Regions from separate parts of the Homo sapiens genome. Here all the other regions are linked to region 1. The links come from fine-mapping of genetic effects on gene expression. A gene starts in region 1. Each other region holds a variant in brackets. All regions are shown on one strand. Distances are from middle to middle.

Evidence for each region. PIP is the estimated chance that this variant, and not a neighbour inherited with it, causes the effect.
Region 2: its variant is the best candidate, but not a certain one, in a credible set for the expression of PRKCA in whole blood (TOPMed, PIP 0.85).
Region 3: its variant is the best candidate, but not a certain one, in a credible set for the expression of PRKCA in prefrontal cortex (GTEx, PIP 0.62).
Region 4: its variant is the best candidate, but not a certain one, in a credible set for the expression of PRKCA in whole blood (INTERVAL, PIP 0.61).
Region 5: its variant is the best candidate, but not a certain one, in a credible set for the expression of PRKCA in gastroesophageal junction (GTEx, PIP 0.60).

What each region holds. Positions count from the first base shown.
Region 1 is chr17:66,299,942-66,305,045 of GRCh38, reverse strand. PRKCA (protein kinase C alpha) reads right to left here and starts at 2,433. Exons shown (of 17, transcript NM_002737.3): 1 at 2,022-2,433. The coding sequence starts at 2,194. RefSeq lists an enhancer at 1,138-1,639.
Region 2 is chr17:66,385,827-66,390,930 of GRCh38, reverse strand. All of the region lies in intron 2 of PRKCA (protein kinase C alpha), which reads right to left. Among named protein-coding and RNA genes, the nearest start is that of PRKCA-AS1, 28 kb to the left of the region's middle. The variant C/T (reference allele first, on the strand shown) is at 2,831.
Region 3 is chr17:66,819,837-66,824,940 of GRCh38, reverse strand. No RefSeq gene overlaps it. Among named protein-coding and RNA genes, the nearest start is that of CACNG5, 13 kb to the left of the region's middle. The variant A/GCA (reference allele first, on the strand shown) is at 2,356.
Region 4 is chr17:66,552,797-66,557,900 of GRCh38, reverse strand. All of the region lies in intron 3 of PRKCA (protein kinase C alpha), which reads right to left. Among named protein-coding and RNA genes, the nearest start is that of PRKCA-AS1, 140 kb to the right of the region's middle. The variant T/AT (reference allele first, on the strand shown) is at 2,171.
Region 5 is chr17:66,446,011-66,451,114 of GRCh38, reverse strand. The region is part of intron 2 of PRKCA (protein kinase C alpha); the gene reads right to left. Among named protein-coding and RNA genes, the nearest start is that of PRKCA-AS1, 32 kb to the right of the region's middle. The variant G/A (reference allele first, on the strand shown) is at 2,691.

The DNA.
Region 1 (5,104 bases):
CTGAGCGCCTCTTCAGCTCACCAGGGGCTGATCCTTCAAGGGCAACTGATAGTGGAAAGACAATAGCTAGCCTCAGTATGCTGCAAGTCCCTTTCTAACTCTCCTACTTCCTGCAAAAGTCACCAGCAGTCTGTTCCCTTTTAATGGACTCTCACAGCTGACCTCCTCTTAACCAAATGCAATATTCTCTTTGCCCTGATGCTCCGAAATTTTTATTTTAAATAGCCTTATCTACGACTACCTACTCCTTTGAGCACAGTCGCTTCATATGCCGACTAGACAGTGGAAATCACTCATAGAGGTGGCTGTGCTTTTCATAAAAGTGTACTTGGGAGCAGATGTCTAAAAAGGAAAGGAAAAATTAAACACCTTATTCGCACCACGATCATGGGACCTGCCCTTTGGGATGTTTTTCCCCAGGTGTGATGGATTCCGACAGAGCCATCCATACTATGCTCACCCTAGTGGCCCAAGATACCTGTGCCACACAGCTGGCTGGTGGCAGGATTCACTCCGTGACTGCCACCCTGTGCAGCTCCCCCTGGCCTAGAAGGAGAGGGAGCTAAGAAGCCCTAGCCATAGCTCTGTCTTGCCCGGAACTTCCTACACCACAAAGAAGAGGTAGAAGAGTCAGGACGTCGGGCAACTTAAAAGAAAAACCAAACTACTGCTGCTCTAACTAGAGGACCTAGAGCTCCTTTAGTTCCAGCTTTCAAAACTTTTGTGTGGTGACGGGGATCTGGGAAGAAGGGTCACACACCTTTTGAGGATCAGATGAAAGCTGTAATTCTCTCACCAGGAAAAAGATTCACAAACACAATTTCCCTCAGTTTTACAGGGTTCAGAGACCCCTGAAGCCCTTCTATGTATCGATTCTCCATAAGCCCCCAGGGACCCTCCGAGTTAAGAATGCCTGAATTCATTGGCGATTACCTGATCTCTGACCTCTGGCCCTTATATTATTTTTCTTAAATAAGGCCTCTGCCCTCATCAACAGGGTTACAGGTCTAATCTCGAGTTGACAGGGTCTGTTTCATTTTTTTTGAGACGGAATCTCGCTCTGTCTCACCCAGGCTGGAGTGCAGTGGCCCGATCTCGGCTCACTGCAGCCTCCGCCTCCCGGGTTCAAGCGAGTCTCCCGTCTCAGCCTCCCGAGTAGCTGGGATTACAGGCGTGTGCCACCACGCCCGGCTAATTTTGTATTTTTAGTAGACGGGGTTTCACCATGTTTGCCAGGCTGGTCTCGAACTACTGACCTTAGGTGATCCGCCTGCCTCGGCCTCCCAAAGTGCTGGGATTACAGGCGTGAGCCACCGCGCCTGGCCGACAGGGTCTATTTTAAATGAGTCCCTCTGCCCTTGTGCCATTTGCCTGCTAGAACTCCCCCTCCCCCACTGCAAGCTTTCAACAGTTTGCTCTCTCTCTCTCTGCTCACTCAGAAAAGTCAGTCTCTCCGTGCCCAGTAGATGCAGCCTACAGTAGGCAGGGGCCCAAGATGCCAGCGCAGTCCAGCCCGATGGGAAGCACAAACACAACCCCCCCACCCCGAACGCGCCCAGCCTGGCTCGCCAGCAACTTGGACCGCGCGCAGTGCAATCGCCGCCGCTCCCCCGTTACTCCGGGGCGCGTTTCTCCGGGAACCTTTGCCCCCTTAGGGCCTCTCCTCCTCCCCTGTCCCCTGGGCTCACACCCCGGCAAGCGGCCGCTCCGCTGGGTGCGTGCGGGTGGGCGCGCCCGGGGAGGTGAGGGGCCCGGCCCGGAGAGGGATCCCCTTCGCCACCGTACGGGGCCAGCCTCCCTCTCGCGCCAGGGGGTGTGTGTGGCGGGACGGCGACGTCCCGGGAGTCCTGCCCGCCGGTGTCAGGGCCGGGCGCGCGTGTCACTCCGGGCGAAGAGTTCGGACTCCCGCCGGTTCCAAGTTATCGGAGTGAGCCAGCCCCGGGGCGGACGCGCCGGAGCGCCGGGTGCCGGGACCCGGAGGCGGGGAGGAGCGGGGCAGGAGTGCCCGGCCCGGCACCTACCAGATGAAGTCGGTGCAGTGGCTGCAGAAGGTGGGCTGCTTGAAGAAGCGCGCGATGAATTTGTGGTCCTTCACCTCGTGCACGTTCTTCTGCCTCAGCGCCCCTTTGCGGGCGAAGCGGTTGGCCACGTCCTGAGACGCCGTGGAGTCGTTGCCCGGGAAAACGTCAGCCATGGTCCCCCCCAACCACCTCTTGCCTCCGCCGGGGAGCTGCGGCCGCGGAGGGCCGGGTGGGCGGGGGCGGCGGGGGAGAGGTGCGGGCTCGGGGCGACCCCGGGCGCGGGGCGCGGGCCGGTGGCCGAGGTCGCGGCGAGGGGGCGCGGCGGGGGCCGGGGAGAGTCGGGCTGGTGCTGCGCGGAGCGGGAGCGGGAGCCGGAGCCGCTGGCTCGCCCGCTGGCCCCAGGCTCACTGACAGCCCGGTGCCCGGCGCTCGCGCTTCCTACTCGCGGCGGCAGAGGCGGCCCGGAGCGGCACCGCCCACCGCGCATGCCCCGAGCGCGAGGCCGCGAGGACGAGCGGCGGGGGCGCGCGGGCCGGGCGCGCGCGGGGGTGCGGCGAGGGTGCGGCGGCGGCGGCGCTGAGCGGACCGGACCGAGTGCGGAGGAGGCAGCGAGTGCCTTGCGGTGCTGGGAACACTGGGCAAGGGGAGGCGGCGGCGGCGGCGGCGGCGGCGGCGGCGGCGGCGGCGGCGGCCGGGGGAGGGCCGGCCCGAGTGGGGATGCGGGGGAGGAGGCCGGGAGTGGCGGGTCCGCGCTCCTCCGCCGCCTTTTTCTTTCCTCCCCTTCCTGCGCCCGGCTCTCCTCCCTCTCGCCCTCCTCCGCCTCAGTTCTCCTCCTCTTCTTCCGCTCTTGCCGCCCGGCCTCCTCCTCTCCCGGTCTTCCTTCTCCCACTCCCGCTCTCTCTCTTGTCGACGGGCTCGGAGTCCTGCGCCACCCGTGCCGGGCCGAGAGGAGCCCGCGTCCGGGAGTGGGCTCCACGCGCAGCCCCTGCCCCGGAGCCTCCCGCCCGGTGCTCACCTCCTAACCCCTCAGCACCCGCAGCAGGGAGCCCCTTCCCCATCCTCAGGACCCCCGGTGTCTCCAGGGCACGACGCCCGTGTTTTAGCTGCCTGTACCAGCTTGAGGTTTCACCTGGCCAAAATGTCACTTTCATCACGTGTGCACTAAAAGACCTAGCCCCTAGACCTTCCTACAGGAGGAAGAGAGCGATTTTTAAATAATTAAGCATTGACCCTTTCCCCTACCTTCTCTTCTTGACCTATACCTTATTTCACCTGCGTGTGGTAGAGACTTTTAATTTGTACGTCGGGCATTTATCACCACGTGGGATGGTTAAAGGACTTGTCTTAGGTATTTATCCCGTTATTCAATGGCCACCAGAGCGACGATGTTGATTATCAGGCTTTCTTGATTTTACAAGTCCAGGACCTTAATTTAGAAATCATTTTGCATCCCAAGCTAATTACTGCAATACTGTCAGGTGCAGAGTGCAGCCAGTACGTTTGTAACTTACCAAGTAAAACTGCCTGTGAAAGAGTAGCGGGCATGGCTATGCAAAGGACGCAGGTGGGGATGCACCAGCTAATCACTCGCTGAATATTTATCAGGTCTGCCTGGAGGCCGCTAAAATACATAAGGGAAATAATCATTTCTCAGCGTTTCATTGGTGTTTTGTTTTATTTGCCAGATTCACGAAATCCCCAAAACGACTTTACGAGCTAAAGAGACCAAGAAAGAGAACACGTTTGATCCTTCAATAAATTTATGTTGAAAAAAAAAACTTTTCTAAAATACTTTCTTAGAGCATGTAACATAGGCCAAGTAGAGCTAATATTGTTTTCTTTGAGATTGCCTAATTGTGATGCTTGATGATAGGAATGTCCTTTATATTTTTAACAAATGGAAGCTCTCCTGACTGGCCGTCAGTGGTGCATGCACTTGACTGATCCATTTACAATCTCTTGAGCCAGTCTTGGTGCTTCAAGAGCCTGCACCTGCCTGGTATTCTAGCTGGTCAGAAATTTCGCCACTCATGGTCGCCCCTCGGGTCCAAGGAGTCAAAAAGGGAAGAAGCAAAGAGGAATGAAGAGCAGGGCATGTTGGGGAAATAGTCCCAATTCTCCATGAAACACTAGAAGCATCTCAAGCCATGGTGGTTTATTGCTTGAAAGCAGAAATCAAATGGAACATAGTGGAATGAAATAATTTCTTTTCTCATAGTCGTCTTTTATCTAAGACGGAGATCCTGGCACATTTTACAAAGACAAGCTTATTTCTATGTCCCTGAGGCTTTCATAGGAGGATGGAGAGAGCTGGAGGGTGAAGTTGCTGATAATGGAATCCTGAGTAAAGTCATAGGAAAGACAAGAACAGAATGAGCCCTGGCAGCAGCCTGCGAATCTCCTGTGTACTCCATGGAGTGACTGTCTTAGCTGTCAGTAGATCAGATGGAACAATGTGTCTGTTTTCTTTTAGGTTGTGGCTTTGCATTCTTGCCTCAGTTGTTAGTGTTGTTCCTGGTGGGTACGAGGAGGAATGATTGACTGGAAGTCAACTGATTCATGGTTGGGCTGGGCATGAAAGCATCAATAGCCCACATCTTAGCTCAGTTGGGGAGAGGGGACTGTGCACCCAGAGTGGGGATTTATCAATTACCAAGCAGTGTAACACTGTCCCTAGCAAGGACTGATGGAAATGTGGGCCAGCATCTACTCCTGCAGCCTACCTGAAGTCCCCATGGTATAACTAAAATGGAGGAGATTAAGGACGGGAGAACCCCCTGGGTTGGGGGTAGTCAGTCAGTCATGAGGGCATGAGTAAATTTTATTTTCGAGTCTGCTATTTCATGGGGAAGGTGCGGGAAAAGAACAGGGAATGTCAGACTGAACGCAGAGTTTTTCAGAATCCGCTTCTGTCCTCTGCCTTTGAGGAGTAAGCTCAACACTGTTTGGAGAGGTGTCACCTAGACCAGGGGGACCCAGAGGCTGGAGGCTGGGATCAAAGTCAGACCACCAAACAGATGACTCAGAATCCCAATGGTTTGAAGCCAGCGGTCTTTCAGATACAATTTACAGCTTGCTGCTCT
Region 2 (5,104 bases), 86 kb before region 1:
CCTCTGCTACTTGGTTCCTTTGCTTCGCATGCTGATGGCCCCAGCGTTGACTCCTGGCTTGGTTGGATGGGTCAGTCTGCACCGCCCTCCCTCTCCAAGGCTGTGGTGGTGGAGCTGTTTGCCAACTATGGCTGCTCACCCCATAGGGAATTCTCTTCCGATGGCTTTGCAAATCAGGCTTCAAGTTGCAGACAGTGGAGAGGCCCATGAAGTCCCCATGAAGCTCCTTTTGTGCACCCCAGGGGGGTCACATAATTAAAAAGTGACTAAGGTATGACCTTTTGGGAACCAATGGTGGGATTCATCACCAAGAGGGTCAATTTGATAATCAGAGGGGAACTCTGAAATCCAAGTTCATGGCATCTCCTCTCCATTTTCCAGAAAATAACCGCAGATGCTACTGACAGCTCAGAGAGAGAAACACATCTGTGGAAATGGCTGGGCCTTTCTCTTTAAAATGGAGTGTTTCTTAAAAAACAAAAAGCTGAGCGAGAGCCCACTGTACACACTTCATTTCTTTCCTATATGGCTTTTTGTTAGCTCAGGAATATATTTTTCTTCTCAATATTATTTCCTATAACTATATTTTGACTATTGCAGCCAAAGAAGGATTAGTTTACATCATGATTATAAGCATCGCAGAATATAGGAAAACATATATATAAATTGCAAAAAGGTCCACTCTTCATGATTTTTTTTTTCTTTTTTGAGACTGAGTTTCACTCTTATTGCTCAGGCTAGAGTACAAGGATGTAATCTCAGGTCACTGCACCCTCCACCTACTGGGTTCAAGCGATTCTCCTGCCTCAGCCTCCGAGTAGCTGGGATTACAGGCATGCGCCATCACACCTGGCTAATTTTGTATTTTTAGTAGAGACGGGGTTTCACCATGTTGGCCAGGCTGGTCTGGAACTCCCAACCTCAGGTGATCCACCCGCCTTGGCCTCCCAAAGTGCTGGGATTACAGGCGTGAGCCACTGCGCCCGGCCTCTTCATGATTTTATGTTATTCCAAGCAACTTATTTTCACATGGATTATTTGCAAGTGGGTAAGCCATTATTCGTGTGCATTTTGCATGGGCAAAGCCCTTCTATCTCTTTCTTAAAAAGAACATTAAGGCTATGTGTAAGAATGAAATGTTAGGATCAATGATTTTCTCAACCAACATCAAACAATAGATGAACTTGATCAGCATGGTTCACAAAAGGTGATGCTCCTCAGCCAATCTCTAAAAGAACCAGTCGCATGTTTCAAACAGCACCAGAGCACCACAGAGCACGATGGGCATGCCAGACCCCCTCACTGCCAACCATCCTGGCCCAGGACAACGATGGCAGCAATGATGATGACAATGAAAGATGTTGTTGAAGACGATGCTGGCCATCATCTGAGGGCCCCATAGAAACCAGATACTTCCGGCATATTTTTCAATACAGTCTCTCCATTCCTTACGATATCCCTGCAAAGGTGTCCTTATGCAGGGGAGGCTACTGAGGCAGAGCCACTCTGGTCACAGAGCTAGAGACCCCCCAGGAGTCTAGCTGCGGTCAGCCTGAACCCCGCGTGCTGTTCCTCCCCATCCACTACGCTGCAGGAGAGGTCCTCAAGCCTGCCTCTGGGAGGCCCAAGTGAGTCGTGCTCCTCTCTTCCCTCCCCTTCAAGGCCAGCCTTTCTGTATTAAAGTGAAATTTAACGCCACAGATATTTACCCTAAGAACTCTCTTGGTGTGGGCTATTGTGAAGGGTGTTGCAGGAAGATGTAAGGAAAAGGAAAGCCACGTTTATCTCTGGTTAACCTCGTGGCTGCAAGTTGCGTGGGAAGGTGCCGCGCCGTTTTATTAGAAAGGCATATACATGATGCTGTTTCTTAAACAGAATCACGATGTTCCCATCAAGGGTTGAAATGAACCTTTCACCATCAATGTCCACGAATTCACGATTTCCCACAGCTTTTTCTTTTTCCTTCCACATCTCTATGTGTTTCTTTCCCAGTGAGGTCTTCGAATTAAACAAAAAATGAGGTCACCCTTCCCACCGAAGCAACGTACTGGAGTATAAAATGCAAGACACGGCTCTGCGGACCAATGACTTCTGGTACACTGTCTCCAACTCTGTGACCCACACAAGTGCCGTCTCTCCACGACCCTGGGTCTTTGTGTATAGGAAGGTGCAGCTGCCCCACAGTGCAGATGTGCAGACAAACCTCCAGGGCCTGTGAACCCCTAAACTTGCATGCACGTGTTTGGTAAGTACATCATGTATACTTATGGTGTGGAGAGGCCCATACTTTTCCCCAAATTCTCCAAGAGAACTATGGCCAATAAGAGCTAAGTATCGGCTGGGCACAGTGGCTCATGCCTGTAATCCTAAGCACTTTGGGAGGCTAAGGCGGGTGGATCACTTGAGGTCAAGAGTTCGAGACCAGCCTAATCAACATGGTGAAATCCCGTCTCTACTAAAAACACAAAATCAGCCAGATGTGGTGGTGCACACCTGTAATCCCAGCTACTTGGGAAGCTGAAGCAAGAGAATCGCTTGAACCTGGGAGGCGGAGGTTGCAGTGAGCTGAGATGGCGCCATTACACTCCAGTCTGGGCAAGAAGAGCAAAACTCCGTCCCAAAGAAAAAAAAAAAGAGGTAAGTATCGATGGACTCAGATATCTCTATCTTCAAAATTATTTGATTCTACAAAATAATGAAAGCATGTCTATGATTTCACAGAAAGCTAAAGATGTCATCCCTGCCCCTCCCACCCACATATCCTTGTTATGTCATGACACGTCCAGGCTCACGGATCTCTGCTTACTTTGGCCATTCCTGGATCTATCTA[C/T]GGTTTCCTCCCCCTGCCTCAAGCCCAGACATAGGTTTTCCGCTCTGCTATGTTGAAGCTGAGATAGCTATTTCAAAAAGAGATACTCCACACCAGGAAAGGAAAATGCCAAGGCAGGGAACAAAGGTCTAGACATCTTGAATAGGAACAGTTGGGAATGGACCCGGGGACAGCATAGTTAAGCCTGGGCACTGTGAAAAGAAATGTCCCACTCCAAGGTGAGGTGGGTAGGAATCTGGCAGGTCTAAAGCACAGGCTGGGAGGGCTCCAATCGCCATGTCAAGTGGCCTCCTCCGGCTTCCGGTCCACCTCTGCCCTACCCCTGCGGCTCCTTCTCAACAAGCTGCTCTAACTGCTGCGGGGCACCCCTGGGGAGCAGACAGGAATTCAGTTGGAGCCCCACAGTTTAGAGAGAACCAGGGGACTTTCAGGGACACACAGAGGATGATTACAAACTAAGAAGTAGCAAAGCAAGTGACAGCCCAGCCTACGGCTTCTATTGTTCTCTGCTAAAAGCCACTTGTCCCAAGAACCCCTCCCCTCTCAGCCCTGTAGGAAGGGCAAGATGAAAGGCTCCTTTTACTGAGCCATCAGGAGCCTCCACAAAAGATGCATCACTAATTCCAGAAGACAGGAGCTCTCCCAGGACACCAGATCCTTCTCAACTTTGTCAAGAGTCCCTCAGCTGCCTCTTATACTCACTTCTCTCTCTCCTAGTTTTCCTTTGCACTGGGGATGGCCAGGTGTTAGAGGTGATCTGACCCTGTGACAGAACCTGCTTCACCAGGTCCTGTATCCAGAAATCTCAACTTTTCTGCCCATGCTGCTGCCAAACATATTATTCATAGCTCAAGACAAGCCATCTACCTGCAGCCTAGCATTTCACTCGTTGCAGTTGCCCTCTAGCCCTACCCAGTGAAAAGGAACATTAATCTAGGAATGTTTTCCTGTTGTACTACAAGTTGATGTCAATCATCCACATGGCTCCCAACACTGTTCATTAAGCAGGATGTACCTGCCCATATGCAAATATCAAGCCCCATTAAACATGCAGGAAGTAACCTTTACTCTCTTAGTCAGGCACCTTGTTGCAAGAGAGAAACTCAAACACAAGTCTGAAGACCACTGAGAACCTTTACATTTTCACCAATTCTTCCATGGTAGGGCTGCACAAAGTGCTTATTATCACACCAGTATTTCATAAGATGTGTCATGACGTAGTAAGGCCAAGAGTAAAGATAAGTAGGAGGAAGTAATGAAGGAATGTTCTTGCTTTCAAGCCTTACATTAAAAGAAAAAAAAAAGGCTTTTAGAGGTTAAAAGTTTAATTACTAGTGGAAGAATAACTTGGTATAATGTGTGTAGGGCAACAGGGAGTATCCACCAAAATTTGAATTGTACATTTTTTGAACCAGCAGCCCAGCAATTCAGCATTTAGGAATTTATTTGACTGACTTACTCTCAAGTGTGCAAAGGCACAGGCAGCCATACAGAGCTAATGATCACTGATCACTCACTGTGTCCCAGGCATTATTCTGGGTATCATATGCACTGGCTATTTTATTCTACATACCCATCATATATTATTAATATTCCCATTTTACAGAGGGGAAACCTGCAGACATGAGAGATAAAGCAACTTGCTCAGAGTCGACGAACTGGCAACTGCTGGAGCCAAGATTCAAATCCAGGCAGTCAAAGGATATTCACTGCAGCTTTGTTTTAAAAAGGCAAAACACGGCATGTTTTTTACTTAAATGCCCATCAACTGGGCTCTGCTTAAATAAATTTTGGCACATCCACACAACGAAGCACTACTGAACAATTGCAAAATAAGTTATGTCTCTGTGCTGATGGTGAAAGAGGTCCAAGATCTATACTGTTAATGAAAAAAGCAAGTCTCAGAACTGTAGGATGATATAATGTAGGGCAGAGATACCTCAAAAGCAGTTCTTAAACGACACAACGAGACTTCAAAAGCGGTTACATCTGCAAAATGAACCTATAGCATGGGAAAAGAAACTTAAAAATAACTGTGCCTGGCTGGGCGCGGTGGCTCTCACCTGTAATCCCAGCACTTTGGGAGGCCGAGGTGGGCGGATCGCCTGAGGTCAGGAGTTCAAGACCAGTCTGGCCAACATGGCAAAACCCCATCTCTACTAAAAAACACAAAAAATTAGCTGGGTGTGGTGGTGAGTGCCTGTAATCCCAGCTACTTGGGAGGCTGAGGCAGGAGAATTGCTTGACCCCAGGAGGCAGAAGTTGCAGTGAGCT
Region 3 (5,104 bases), 520 kb before region 1:
ATTTGAGTTTTAGTGCATATCCAATTCTAAATCCCTGCGGGGAGGGTCGTGTTTCTAGATCATTCACAGTTGTCTGCTAAAGTGCCAGGCTCCGTCCTGGGAGCAGGTGTTGGTAGTGTGTAATCACAGGAGATGCAGGGAGGGAATAGTAAAGGAAGAACGTTTTCTGGGTGCTGTTGATGAACCTGGTAATGAGTCACCTGGGCATGCTGGGGCCCCTCTGTGGCCCCCCCGGGGGGAAGAAGGGAGGTGCCACCCTACCCAGAAAGGGAGGATGGGGGATACTAGCTTAGATCTCACCTGGTCAGGTGTCTTCTGTGAGTCTGTAGGCATTGCCCAGTGCCAGCCCCTGTGGCCATAGTCAAAAGTTCCTGGCCTGGGTCAGGACCATTCGGTGTCTTCCCTAGACCTCATGAGTGCTGGACTCTGCAATGGGGTCAAGCAATTCTTCCACTGATGGCTCAAGACAACCTCAGAGGAGCGGGAGATACGACCTCTAACCCCTGCCTCTATTCCCATGGGTGGGGGGAGGGTGGAGACCCCCAGCTTTCCCCATGGGATTCCCGGGGATGGAGGACAAACCCTAGTGTCCCAGTCTTATCATGGTTTCTCAACCTCAAGACATTTTTTTTTTTTTTTTTGACAAGGTCTCACTCTGACACTCAGGCTAGAGTGCAGCAACACAATCTTGGCTCACTGCAGCCTTGACCCCCTGGGCTCAGGTGATTTTCCCACCTCAGCCTCTTGAGTAGCTGGGACTACAGGCATGCATCACCACACCCAGCTAATTTTTTTGTATTTTTAGTAGAGATGGGGTTTCACCATGTTGCCCAGGCTGGTCTCAAGCTCCTGGCCTCAAGCAATCTGCCTGCCTCAGTCTCTCAAAGTGCTGGGATTACAGGCATGAGCCACACCCAGCTCAACCTTAAAACTATTGATGTATCATTGATGGGGGCGGGACAGGATGGGGGTCGTGGTGCTGCCCTGTTCACTGCAGGATGGTTAGCAGCCTCTCTGGCCCCTGTCCCTCTAGATACCAGTAGTACCCCTTTCCCAACTGTGACAACCAAAAATATCTCCAGATGTTGCCAAGGTTGGTAATTGCCAGAGTTACCAGTGGGTGAAAACCACTGGGCTAGATGTTAACTGAGACTTTTTTCTGCCTACACATCTATCTGCTGGCTTCAAAGCAAGCGGGCATGGGGGTATGGCCCTATTGATATGGGAAAACATCTCCCCTGGCTCTGAATCCTGACGAATTTCCCTGCTAGTGAAAGACACAGACCCTCACCCCTTTTTTAGTTACTTAAGAGCAAAGTGTCTCACTCCACCAAGTCCTAATTTTCTTCCAAGGACATTATGGTCTGGTGTCACATGAGGACTGAGACTTGCTACTCTTACCATGCTCCTGGTGAAACAGCAGGTTAGTCCCTATTGTACTCATGGAGTGGCCCTCTCCCTCCAGGCCTCACTTTCCTTACAAAGACCCCGCAGTAACCAGCAGTGGCCATCCGCCAATAGATGCTTCTGGATCTCCTAAATGGCCTCTGAGAGAATGGGCTGGAGGAGGTCATTTCACCCTGCACCCATGTAAGGCAGATCAGCAATCTTTTCTTTGTTGTTCCAGTGAGCAAATTAAAAATCAGAGAAATTAAATGCACTCACACAGAGTCCATCAGTGAGTTTAAGACTAAACTGGAATTCATTCATTCAATGTGCCTGGCATGTCCCAGTGGGGTGGGGGTGACCCAGCTACAATCTTCCCACTGCAGGTGCAACATGTTTCTGGACTGTACCCCCGCTTGGTTCTCCAGGGGCATGGAGGTCATTTGGTTGGGAGGCTTGGATGGTCTCCTATGGAGACACCAGCCCCTGCATGTCATAGCAGGGATTCTAGAAACAACCTTGGGGAAAAAAAGAACATATTTCTCCCCCTTCTTGAGGGGTTCTCCACAGCCCCATTTTGCCCATTCTCATAGGTGGCCTCCTGCCCTGCCTTGTGACTCAGTCTCTCTAGGCCCCAAGATTAGAAAGCCATTAACTGTCCAGGGAAGCTTTAACCCAGAGGCACACCTGGGCCAGAAGGATGGGATTAGAGCTATTTGCTCCCCAGGGGACATTTGCCCAATGTCCAGAGGCACTGTGGGAAGAATTATCACTGGCATCTAGTGGGTAGAGGCCAGGGATGCTGTTAAGTATTCTACAAGGCATGGGACAGCCCCTCACAATAAAGAATAATGCAGCCTCAAATGTCAGCAATGTCGAGGTTGAGAGGCCCTGAAATAGATATGATATCAGAGTCACAAGCTTAGAGAAGGGGATGGGCATCTCCCAAAAGGTGAGGGGAGGTTGGGC[A/GCA]GGTGGCAGGGCTCTTACCAGAAGCAGTGAGGCAGCTTGCTGGGTGACCCTACAGCTGCTTTGGGTGGTCCTGGCTCATGACCATGACCCCGGGAGAGTTAATGGCTCTCTCTTGTACTTTCACACCTGTCCTGGTTTGGAATATAGTTATATATATAACAGTTAGTTATATAGTCACCCCACTGATAGGTGAGGACGATGTCCACTCCCTGGGTGGGCTAACGCTGCTGGACGAGGGGACAGTGTTCTGTTCCTTTGGAACTGCAGCAAAGCCTGGGGACACCAGGCTTCGAGTACCAGGTACCTGGGGAAGGCATTAGAACCTTCCCAGGCATAGAAACCACGTGGGGCCTTTGGAGTCAACTCACAAAATGATTACACTGCATTTTTTTAGTCTAATAAAATTTCCCGGCATCTCCTCTCTGGCCGTTTGTCTTCTCTCCATAGTTACTGGTTTTTGTTCTGTTTTGTTTTGCTATAAACTGCTCATGCCACAGCAGCGGTTTTCTGTCCAATATTCCCTGAGTAAGGCCCTCTGGAGAAACCACACAGAATGATGCTATCTCCTATTTGAGAAACCCTTGGGAGCTCTTTGATGTCGAGCTGATCTCCAGTTCATTCCCACAGGACTTTTGGAGGCCAAGAATGGCTCCTCGGAGTTCTCACTTGGGTCTCGTTGTGTCTCACAGGCTCTGCCTAAACCAGCCACTGGTAAGGAAAATGGAATTCCCATGACGGGCTTATGCCCAAGAGCATCCATGCCCTGGGGCCCTGGAGGATCCAGGGAGGGCATGGTTATCATAAATCAGCCCCAAACTGGAGTTCTATTAGCAAGAATTTAGGCTCTTTCCAATGACCTGTGAAGTAGATATAGCAGTTAAAGCATCCGCCTAGCAGAGCCCTTCTCAGAAGGGATCTCCCTTTGTTCATCTCTTTGATGACGGGATGGGCAAGGTGGCCCTGTTTTGTGTCAAACAGCTTGCTCCGCTCCGCCACAGATGAATGGACCAGACATGGGAGCCTGACCCCTGACAGTAAATCCAGCCAACTTGTCAGTGACCGATGACATGGCCGGACCCACACATGCACCGGGCCATAGGATTCCCTCTCTCAGGGCAAAAGTACCAGGTGAGACCCACTCATCAATGGACGCTGATGTGAAAAGCATGATCAGAGGCTAAGGAGGGGCCAGAAGAAGTTGTGGTCGGTTGACCTTTTGAGAAAATGCAGGCTGGGGAGGAAGAAATGCACCAGGAGGTTAAAGGTTATATCCTGTGTGCTTCCATTTATATCACACTCCTGAAATGACAAAATTACAGTGATGGGGAACAGAGCTGTGGTTGCCAGGGGCTACGGTGGGGGGTGGGGCAAGATGACAAAGGGGTAGCATCGGTGAATTTCTTTCTGGATAGAAGAGTTCTGGATCTTGATTATGGTGGTGGTTACATGAATCTATACATATGATTTCATAGTCACACACACACACACACACACACACACATAATGAGTGTATTGTGTATGTAAAACCTGGTGAAATTCAAATAAGGCCTATAGTTTAGTTAAGAGTATTCTAACCCCATCTCTATTTAAAAAAAAAAAAAGAAATACAAAAAAGTTAGTCAGGCATGATGGTGCTCTCCTGTAATCCCAGCTACTCCGGAGGCTGAGGCAGGAGAATTGCTTGAACCCAGGAGGCAGAGGTTACAGTGAGCCGAGATCGCACTGCTGCACTCCAGCCTGGTGGGTGACAGGGCGAGACTCCGTCTCAAAAAAAAAAAAATTCTACTGTGTCCCTTTTCTGGTTTTAATAATGTACTAATGTTAAGTAAGGTGTTATCATTGAAGAAGCTGGGCGAAGGGTACAGGGGAACTATTTTGGCAAATTATTTTGAGTCTTAAATTATTCCAAAATAAAAAGTTCCAAAAAGAGAAAGAGGCTGAGGAGCTTACATGAGTGAGAGAAAAAAAATCCATCTCCCAGAGCTGCCTTGGCTCTAGAGATTTCCAGCCCAGAACTGCCTTGGCTCCAGAGATTTCCAGCGCCAGCCCCTGGTTGGGTCCATCTGTGTTTACTGCCACCCAAAGAGGCGGAGCAAAACAAACATCTCGTACCTAAGTCTTTGGTGCATTTTTGGTTATTTCTTTAGAGGAAAAAGATCCCCCAAAGCAGAATTGCTGTGTGTAAGCACATTTTTAAGACTCTTGTTACTTAGTGCCAAATTGCCCTCTAAAAAAGATTGTACCAATTTATATTCCCACCCACAGGGCATGAGAGGGCAGACTTTCCCAATTCTTGCCAAAATTGGGATTTAATCTTTCAAGAAAGCATATTTTCTGCCAAGTTAACAGATAAAAACATGGTATTTCATTGTTCTTTTCCTCCAGGAATTCTAAATTCTTTTTTTGGACCAAGTTGGACTAGATAATTGGTTATTTACCTGGAGACTTGGGTTGAGTTTCTTGGTCGGTCACCTTCATGAAGTTGTATTTTAATATGCCCCAAACTTGACGAAGAACACTAAAAAAAGGCTTTATGAAATTTGATAGTGCATTTATTGTTTCAACAAAACTTCAAAATGTTGTTGAGGACATCATTTCTGATATTGCTTGGTGTCTTTTCTAGGTAATAAAATTATACTCAAGAAATTCCTTTTGGATTCAGTGCTAGGAAAAGCTTTATTTCCCAAAGGAACACATATGCTTCCTCTTTTCCAGTAATGACAATCACATAAGTGACCATGGTTCCCAC
Region 4 (5,104 bases), 250 kb before region 1:
GGATCGGAACTTCTATCCAGAGGCACCTATTCTGTATATGAGCTCAAAACACTGCTCTCTGGCTAACACCCCCTCACAGGCCTGTAGAAAATCTGCCCAGATGGATTTTACCACTCAGAAGAAAACAGGGAAAAAGTACTGGCAAAAAATTCTAGGTTTTGGAAGTATGGAGAGAAAAGCAGCACTGATAGTATTGCTGAAGAAAACCTTTGTGGGCTCTACTATAAAGCATCCTAGAAAAGGCATTTATTTGCCTTTATTAAAATTCTTCAGAAAAGTACCCGTCCCTCCAATATAAAACATGAATCAGATTTTGGTACCTATTACATGAGAGAGCAGTTGCACCAACAATTATGTTGAATTTATTCATTCGAAAATCCTAATGAGTAATCTTTTTCTTGAGACATTTTAAGACTTGCATAATTCATTAGACTGTGTACATCTTTTTTTTTTTTTGCACAGGTTTCGCACCCATTCAAAGAGCAACTGTGGGATCATGAGTGATATGTCTAAGAAATGTCAAGCAGGAAATCTATTGTAAGTAGAGTGCATGAATAAAATATATTACTAACAAATTTAGAATCGTAATTTGTATCAAGTTGTCTGTCTCTGTGCAACTTGCTTCACAGAGAGAAGTCTCTGAATAATTCATTATGTCCTTCCCCAAGGCCCTTAAAAAAATCAGAAACACTGTAGATAATATTCTCTCCCTTAAATGAGAAAACAATCACATAAATTATCAAGTTAGATAGCCCTTCTGGATCCTACCTATCATTCCATTTCCAACCAGTTGAAGAAATTCCCTCTCAGCGCAAGGGGAAGGTGGTCACTTGGTCTCTGAATCTAGAGGCTCAAAACTTCATGAAACCATCTAATCCAACTATCAACAGCTCCAAACTGCTGGCAAATTTGCTCCTCCATTGACCCAAATTGCTTTCCTTATCCCCTATCCTGATGCTGTGGGGTTCTTCCCCGGGGAGTATCAGGTAGTAGTGTATTAGTCCATTCTCATGCTGTTATAAGGACATACCCGAGATGGGGTAATTTATAAGGGAAAGAGATTTAATTGACTCACAGATCCACAGGCCTGGGGAGGCCTCAGGAAACTTAAAATCATGGTGGAAGGGGATGCAAACATGTCCTTCACAAGGCGGCAGGAGAGAGAAGAATGAGAGCTGAGCAAAGGGGGAAGCCCCTTATAAAACTGTCAGATCTCTGAGAACTCACTATCATGAGAACAGCATGGGAAAAACACTGCCCCCCATGATTTAGTTGTCTCCAACTGTTCTTGCTCTTGATACAAATCAAGGTGAGATTTGGGTGGGGAAACAGAGCCAGACCATAGCAGATAGCATACCCTCTCCACATTCAACTGCCTTTCAAACATCTCATGAAAGCTTTGAGGTCTTCAAATGTTCTCTTCTTTTGGTTAAATATTTCCATTTCTTTAGCTCCAGGAATCAACATTTTCAATAACCTCTTTAAATAATGTATTATGGACTAAAATGAAATTGCATAGCTGTTGTCACCTAATGCCCATGAAGACTATTGTCTTGACCAAAAAAAAAAAAAAAAAAGAAGAAGAAAGAAAAGATTATTCTCAGAGCACAGGAGGTTAACTCATTTGTTTTAAATGACTCCAGGTACAAATGCATATTTTAGTAGATGTTTTTGGTGATGATGCTAAAACCTTGAATTTTTAAAGTGCCTTTCAGTGAAAGGCCCAAATGTGTTCAAAATGGAAAGCATCCAGGTGGTAAACAGAAACTCGATGCTCAAAGGTGCAGCTCAGTCAAAAAGAGCTCCAGTCCCAGGGAGGAGTCCCCATGGCTGGCTCGCCCATCCAGAGCTCACCTGGATGGATGAATGGCTTCCTTTTCACAGAGCATCTTTCTTTAAAAAGAAAAAAAAAAGTAGTAGAGGAAAATGCATTTGACAAAATAAATGAGAAGGCTCTATATTTAACGACAGGAACAAAAAAATAATTAGTAGCACGCATTGCCAAGGTATGACACATGAAATACCTTTTGTGACTTCTTGGATTCCACACATCTTAAATAGCAACTGGAAGGGAAACCCTTCACCTAAGGACAGTCTAAAATTGCTATGGAAACTAACAGTTTGTCAACTGTGGTAGTTCATAATAGAAGTCTCAGCAATAAAAAAAAAA[T/AT]TTTTTTTTAAACCTGCAATCCAAAGGCTTCTTGTCCCTGTAACTCAAATAAGAACCTGGGTGGAGTTGTTTTCCAGTAGTGTAAGTGGCTCTTAAAGGATAATCTAGGCTACAAGTTGTCTAGAAATTTCTTGGATGAAGTTAGAAACTAGGATTTCTACAAGATATACTTCCAAGGAGGGACATTTGTAAAGAGCATTTATTACACTGGTGGGGAGGCAGCAATCCTGCTTCTCTGTTCAAAGGTGCCCAAGTGAAGTGGGGAAGCGTGTGGCACAAAGGAAGTTAAGGAAGAACGAGGATCCTCCACAAAGATTCTGCAATATGACAGAAAAGCATGTTCTTGGTGGTGAAGGATCTGCAGGTGGCAACTTCCATAAAAGAAGCCACATGTGTGTTGTAGCCAAGAAGTCTGGTTGCGTGGCACTCCATCTGCCACACGCAACAATCCAGAAAGAAAAACAGCCCTTCATAAGCAAGCATTGCATTTAAAATGCTGTGCTGACTGCACAGAAAGATACGATACCTGCCTTCAAAGAATTTACAATCTACTGGCTGGGCGTGGTGGCTCACGCCTGTAATCCCACCACTTTGGGAGGCCGAGGCAGGTGGATTGCCTGAGCTCAGGAGTTCGAGACGAGCCTGGGCAACAGGGTGAAACCCCATCTCTACTAAAATACAAAAACTTGGCCGGGCATGGCAGCGTGCGCCTGTAGTCTCAGCTACTCGGGAGGTTGAGGCAGGAGAATTGCCAGAACCTGAGGCAGAGGTTGCAGTGAGCTGAGATCGTGCCACTGCTCTCCAGCCTGGGCGACAGAGTGAGACCCTGTCTTTAAAAAAAAAAAAAAAAGAATTTACAATCTACTTAAGGTGACAACGTGGAATCACAAGTACAATGGGATGGCATCAACACAGTACTACAAGTGTTTAGAGGCAACAGATAATCCCAACTGGCTGATCCATTCCTGGGGCAAGGAGAGGCCTCCTCTTCAACAGAACACACAGCTTGGGAAGCCAAGAGGAAGGACAAGGCTGTTAATGGGGCAGTGGATGTCATAACCAAACTCCCTTCACATCCATAGATTTAATTTATTTGCTAGTGCCCCCCACCAAAAAAAAGTCCTTTAAAATTAACAGGTCACCCACCTTACCTTCGGAGAGTGAGTAGGATCTCAAAAGGTAGAGGCAGACTAGCAATACAGGGGAGAAGAGCTGTAGGTAATAGAAATGATGTGAGTAGTCACGGGAATGTTCTCTTCCAGCCCAAAGTTTGAAACACAGGCCCCAATGGGAACAAGAAACGTGTCATAGCGTGATTGGTAATGGAGGCTCTAAAAATCTTCTGGGTCAAGGAAGCCTATTGCAGGCTTTCTGACACACAGCCTGGGCTCCATGGCTCCACTGGGACAAGTTCACACCTGATCCAAATTTGAACAAGTCCAAGGCTATTTTTTGAGAAATAACTTTTTTTCTCTCGTTTTTTTTTTTTTTCATAGAGACGGGGTCACACGATGTTGCCCAAGCTGGTCTAGAGCAATTCTCCCACCTTGGCCTCCCAAAGTGTTGGGATGACAGGCGTGAGCCACCATACCTGGCCAGCAAAAAGTCTTAACTCTGCCCTGGCAGGCTCACTTCTGAACACAGGTGTCTTCTTTCTCTTCATGCCAATGTCTGGTGCCCAGTTCTTCACTTACAGGTCTTGTACTTCTCAGCCCCATCATTTTAATAACCTCATGCTGTACCCCAGCCTCTGAACCACTTTAGCTGTCCATCACCCTGTCTGAATTCTACCCCAAAGTCCAAGGTTCAACACTGTACTTTCAAGGAGACTCTCTGGATCACCCCGGCCACACACTTCATCTCCTGAACAATGAGATGGCACCAGCTTTCTCTACTGCTTAAACACTAATGAGAGGCCATGTCTTACACGTCTTGGTTCCCTCACAGGCCCTGGCACGGTACCTGAAAAATGAAAGGATCCACTTCCAAGATGCTTCGCTCATGTCAATGTCAGCAGGAAGACTCAGTTCCTCACCAGCAGCTCCTTCAAAGGCTGCTTGAGTGTCCTCACGGCATGGCTGCTGGGCTTCCCCAGAGCAAGTGATCCAAGAAAAACAGCAATGAGGAAGCTACGATGCCTTTTACAGCTATTCTCAGAAGTCACACACTGTCACTGCTACCATATTCTATCCATTAGAAGCAAGTCGCGAAATCTAGTCCACACTTAAGAGGATAAGAGTTAAGCTCTTTACCTCTGGCAGGGAGGAGTATTCAAGAATCTGTGAAAATATTCCAAAACGTCAGTAGGAGAGCTCAGGGAACACACAAGAGGAAGGAAACTACCTACCAAAGATCTTTCTAGCTATGGAATTATTTATTTGCTAGAGAAGACATTTGATCCAATCTCATTTGAGCATAGGGGAGTCACAATTTAAAAATCATTCATCAGGCCAGGTGCAGGGTGGCTCACGCTATAATCCCAGAACTTTGGGAGGCTGAGGCGGGTGGATCGCTTGAGCTCAGGAGTTTGAGACCAGCCTGGGCAACACGGCAAAACCCCACCTCTACTAAAAATGCAAAAATTAGCCAGGCATGCTGGTACAAGCCTGTAGTCCCAGCTACCTGGGAGGCTGAGGCAGAAGAATCGCTTGAACCCAGGGGGCAGAGGTTGCAGTGAGCCAAGATCACACCACTGCACTCTGGCACCAGCAACAGAGTGAGACTCTGTCTCAAAAAAAAAAAAGAAAATATTCAGATTTTTATAAAATGTAGTTCTTCTAGCTGTCTAGATTTAGATGTTCTACTAAAAAGACATACTTGGGTTCATAAAACTGGTAGGCTCTTAAAACAGTTGTGTCTATAGTGTATTTCATCATACATGGCGGGAGGCGGCATCTGACATGGCTCTCAGTGCGTCCCTGCCTCCTGGTGCTC
Region 5 (5,104 bases), 150 kb before region 1:
TTAATAGAGTCAAAGAGAGAACAGAGATCCACAGAACATATTCACTTCATCATTTCTTTATAGATCACTGGAAACACACCAAGTCTTCCTTTTCTTCCATTCACTCAACAATCTTAACAGAGAGACAGAGTGAGACCCACAGAGCAGGTCATGTTACTTTCAGCAAAATTCTAGAACTTCACTCAGCAGTAAACCCCTGCATCACAGTTCCAAACAGTGCTATTTTCATCAAAAGTTAAAAACCAAAATGTTTTACTAATCGCATCAGTTAGCGGTTTTAAAAAATAATTCAGCACAGCTTATGAAGACAAATGTACTAGTACAGGGGCCCATGATTGCGTAACCAAAACATCAGAACAGCATGAGCTGGTACCAGCTTTTGCGGTAATTACCTTCTGTGAAAGCAGACGCCTACCCTTCCCCAAAACTGTCCCTGCAAAGAGAGTGTTAAGTGTGTGGATGAAAGTCATCCGGTAATAACTAATCCACAAGAGAAAAAGTGCACCTGTGCTGAGGTCTTCTTCCAACCGCAGCTTTCTGTTTCCTCCCCTGCCTCCCTTTTCCTGGGACTTCTCTTTCCACCTGCATCCCACCTCACTGTGGAGGCCTTCTGTGAACTGTGCACCCTCTGACCACACACCTGTGGGACATGGCCGTCTTCAGGTACCAAAGATGGGGACCCACGTTCATTCATCAGACTCTGTGAAAGGCATTTCTAACTCGTTTTACTTAGCACTCAGTACCACCCCTCTGCGGTACCATTGCCCCTACTTCCAGACAAGGAGACTGTGACTAAGAGGGACTGTGTCTCTCTTCCACCAAGCTGTTCCAATTCTTGCAGACTGGCTGGGGCATCCCTGCTCTGTCCTGTGAACTTGGCTCTGCTGGCCCCCGATGAGCATCTCTCTCTCCAGAACAGGAGGTCTTTGAGGTCCCAGCATGATTCCCAGCATGAAACAGGAACTCCACTCAGTATGAGTTAACGATCTTGTCAAAGGTCACCCAGTTAGTATGGGATAAAAATGTAATTCCAAAGCCTCCACTCTTTCCAATGACATTCTATTGTGGCTATAAACAATGCTTAAAAAAAAAACAAAAACAAAAAACACTCCCACTCCCCAAGGTATACCTCCTTGAAAATGAACATGAAGCAAAATAAGAAATCACTTCTTCAAAGTAATCAACGTGTACAATATAGGCTGCTTCCAAACTGAAGCGCATGGCAGAACAAAACAAAACAAACAAAAAAACAACAACAAAAAAGCTGCCTACACCTGAGGCCGTTCGTCCAGCATCCAACCACGGTGGGAGATTTCACTCCTCCCACCACTGTCTCCACCTTTACACAGGCGCTGCAGGTGCACACCCAAAAACAATTACAGCAACAACCTCAGCCCTGGAAGCCAGCCCCCTGTCCTGGTCTGTGTAGTCCCTCTGACTTGAACACTTGATGTTTGGCTCATAGAAGGAACAGCTTCAGACACAGGGGCCTTTTCTCCAGACTAAACTGTACTTGACTCACATGTAAGGACATTTTGTTTGCATTTAGTGCTGTGCTAGGGATCGTGAAGATGAGCTATCTGGGGAGAGGAAAAAAGGCTGAGGATGTACTACTGGTTGGGCAGCGAGGTTCAATTGAAAGAATATAAACAAGAGCAGTGTTATACTTATTTGCTGAAATAATTTTGCTGAAAGTAATATACACACTTTTTTTTTTAAAGGCAATATAGCTAAGGAGTTACCAAAAAATTCCTCAATCTCTCTACCTATCCATTCACTTTAAAGCTCATGCTTTTTTTGCTTTTGTTTTGTTTTGTTTTGTTTTTTTGAAATAGGGTCTTGCTGTTGCCCAGGCTGGAGTGCAGTGGTGCTATCGCTGCTCACTACCACTTCCATCTCCTGGGCTCAAGCAATCCTCCCAGCTCAGCCTCCCAAGTAGCTAGGCCTACAGGCACATGCCACCACACCCAGCTATTTTTTTAATTCATTTTTTGTACAGACAGGGACTCACTATGTTGCCCAGGCTGATCTGGAAATTGTGGGCTCAAGCAATCCTCCCACCTCAGCATTCCAAAGTGCTAGGATTACAGGCATGAGCCACCTCACCTGGCCACCTTTTTTTTTTTTTTTTTTTAAGTTTAGAGTTTTTCAAAGCTGGACCTACTCTCTTCAAAATACTATGAATACTACAAAAAAAAGTTGAGCAAGACTGACAGATTCAATAAGTTTAAAAAACTTTTAGATTTTTTTTTTTTTGCCAGAATCTCACTTATGCCTGTCCACAGAGGCATTATTTGATACCATTAGACTCACTTATCTAAAGCACATTTTGAGGGGTAAAACTGAATGAGCATTTTCATTGATTGCTTAAAGGGATGTGTGATGTTGCTGAATTTTTTTTGGTTTGGTGTAAATCAAATCATATGTCAAGAGTCAGGGAAAGCCACAGTGAATTCTTCTGAAAGGAGAGACTTTCCTTATAACGTGAATTATGCACTTCTAATGTTATTTTAATCACTAAACTTGGATTTTTGTGTGACTTTATTTTAATATATACTATAAAGGGTAGGCACAGCATATACACAGGTTTCTAAAGTTTAAAAGCCTTTGGAGGATGGGAGTTCACTGCAACGTGTCACCCTCATTACGCATAGCAGTTTAATGGCATCGAGCCTAATAGGGCTCAAGAA[G/A]AGCCTAACGCAGCCAAAACGACACACAAACTTCCATCAGGCGTCTCGATTTCCGAAACCAATTTTCAGGTATCAACAAGCTCCAAGGCAGCAAAATTCATCATTCCCTTTAACAGATCTCGTTTTTCCAATACTATGTTTATTAGGGCAGACTGCAATGTGACAAAAATGACTAATGATCCACGTTTTCCTAAGGTTTAGAAGTACAAAGTCCACACTATGTTATCAACAAAACAAAATAACAGCACGATATCAACTTGTTAGCGGAAAAAGGGCACAGAATACACAGAACACAAAGGCCATCTTTCACCACGATTCTATTCTAAAGAACCTAAGCTTTCTACTGTAATTTCAAGGATTTAATTCCATTCAATCTATTCACTTTTGAGTGCTCCTAGATACCAAGGCAAATAAGGCAGTCTTACCTGTCGATACCCACTGCCCGACAGAAGCAGAAAAATAACCAAATAACTACACGACAAAAAGGGTCCACACACGATGCTCTGGAAAGGAGGCACAGGAGTCCCTAGTTCTGCCCAGGGTACCCAAGTTTGGTCTTAGCCAAGCCCTCCAGTAAACAAGAAAGAGAAAGAGCATCTCAGAAGGAGGAGAGCCTAGACGTGAGGAGGTAGCCACATAGCCCCAGGTGAAACTGGAATGAGCGGAGGTGGGGATGGAGCACAAAGGGCCAGGGGGCCCTGGAGGCTGTTGGAAACCACCTTTGATGACAGACTCCTAGAAGCTCAAAGGAGCTTAGAGATGGTCACACTGAGTCTAGGTTTCCACATTCAGCAGCACAGTCCAGGTCCAGATCTCTAAATTCAGTGCTTTATGAACGCCTGTCATCTATGCTACCACCCTGCTCTTTTAACAACTCACTCCCCCAGTTAAGCTGCACTTTAGCAAGAAAACGCCATCCCACATTTTACTATTCAAATTACTGAACCGATGGTCCAAGGTGGCTACTCAGAAAGCACTAAGGCCCCGTGCCTTTGGGAGTGAGGAAGGTGTCTCCAGAAGGTGTCAGCTGCACAAGAGGACTCCCCATGAGTCTCCGGCTCAGAACTCGCCTGGCATCCCCGACCAGCCAAAGTCGCATGCAAGAGGCTGAGGGAAGAGCTACTCAGAGGACAATGAATTGGGACTACAAAAATCACTCCCTTCTTTCAAAACCCCAAGGCCTCTCTCACTCTGTCACCATCCCGTATACATCTTAATGGTATGACACTTCCCTGTCTACACATGACTGACATTTTCAAGTCCCTGCCAAAACATTCTCAGAAAGCTGGTCCTCTACATACAGAGAGCTCTTACACTCGGAGTGACTTCGCAGTCTGTCTTTTGATGGCTTGATATCGAAGCGTTTCCGGAACTATGCTAAACTACTTCTTACACTGGAAGGGAGTCAAGAGTGAATTTCTCCAGGTGTGAAAAGGGATTTGAACACACAAGTGTACTGTCTTTAGAAATCGCTGGGTGACAAAAAGCAAAGCAAGCTAGAAGTTTTTATGCTCAGAATTCAGTGCAAGAAAATAACTGCCCTGACCCCTCCAACACACACATACCCTGACCAAATCCTCTATTCCTCTAAGCTGTCTCTTTGCTTTTTAGATCTAGGGGATCACTAGGGCCCCAAGATCCTCTTCCACTGCAGCCCAGGGGTACACCTCAGTTCTAGAGGCTACCGGGGTCCTCAGCTTCCTGACGTTGAGTCATAGGTAAGACTGAACAGGGCAGTGCTGCCTTGGAGGGGTTTAAGTGTGCAGGCCCCTCTCATCACAAGCAGCAATGAGTCACCAAAATGTACAAGCCCACCTGGTGCTCAGTGGAGGCAGCATTCATAGCCCTTGACCACAATCTAGATGGGGTTCTGTCTAAATTTAGCCACATCAACAATGCAACTGCTTATGAAAAACAAGCCCCATTTAAACAGAAGTAGTCTGAGTATCCTTCTGGGTCTGGACAGAAGACATTGAAAATGCCTGGCATATTTCTTGAGCAAGGCCAATGAGGAAGAAGAAAATTGTTTCCATCCTGGAGAAGGTGAATGGGGGTGCTGCACCTTAAGGCCCATGTCCCACAACCAGGCTGGCCACACCAAGGACAACTGTCTCCACAGCTCCTGTGGTCTTCTCAAGAGGTGGGAGTGTGAGTGTGAATGTGTGAGTGTGTGTGTGTGTGTGTGTTGGGAAGAGAGTCTATCATTTCATAAAACTAGAAAACAGCACCTTCCCCAGAGGCAACATTTCAAATCACAGAAAAGACCAGAGTTCTAAAACTCACCTTAACTTCTAATTCAAAGAGTCAGCCAGGCACTTTGGCTGGAATCAAGCCTGTAATCCCAGCACTTAGGGAGGCCGAGGTGCACGGATCACTTGAGCTCAGGAGTTTGAGACCAGCCTGGGCAACACGGC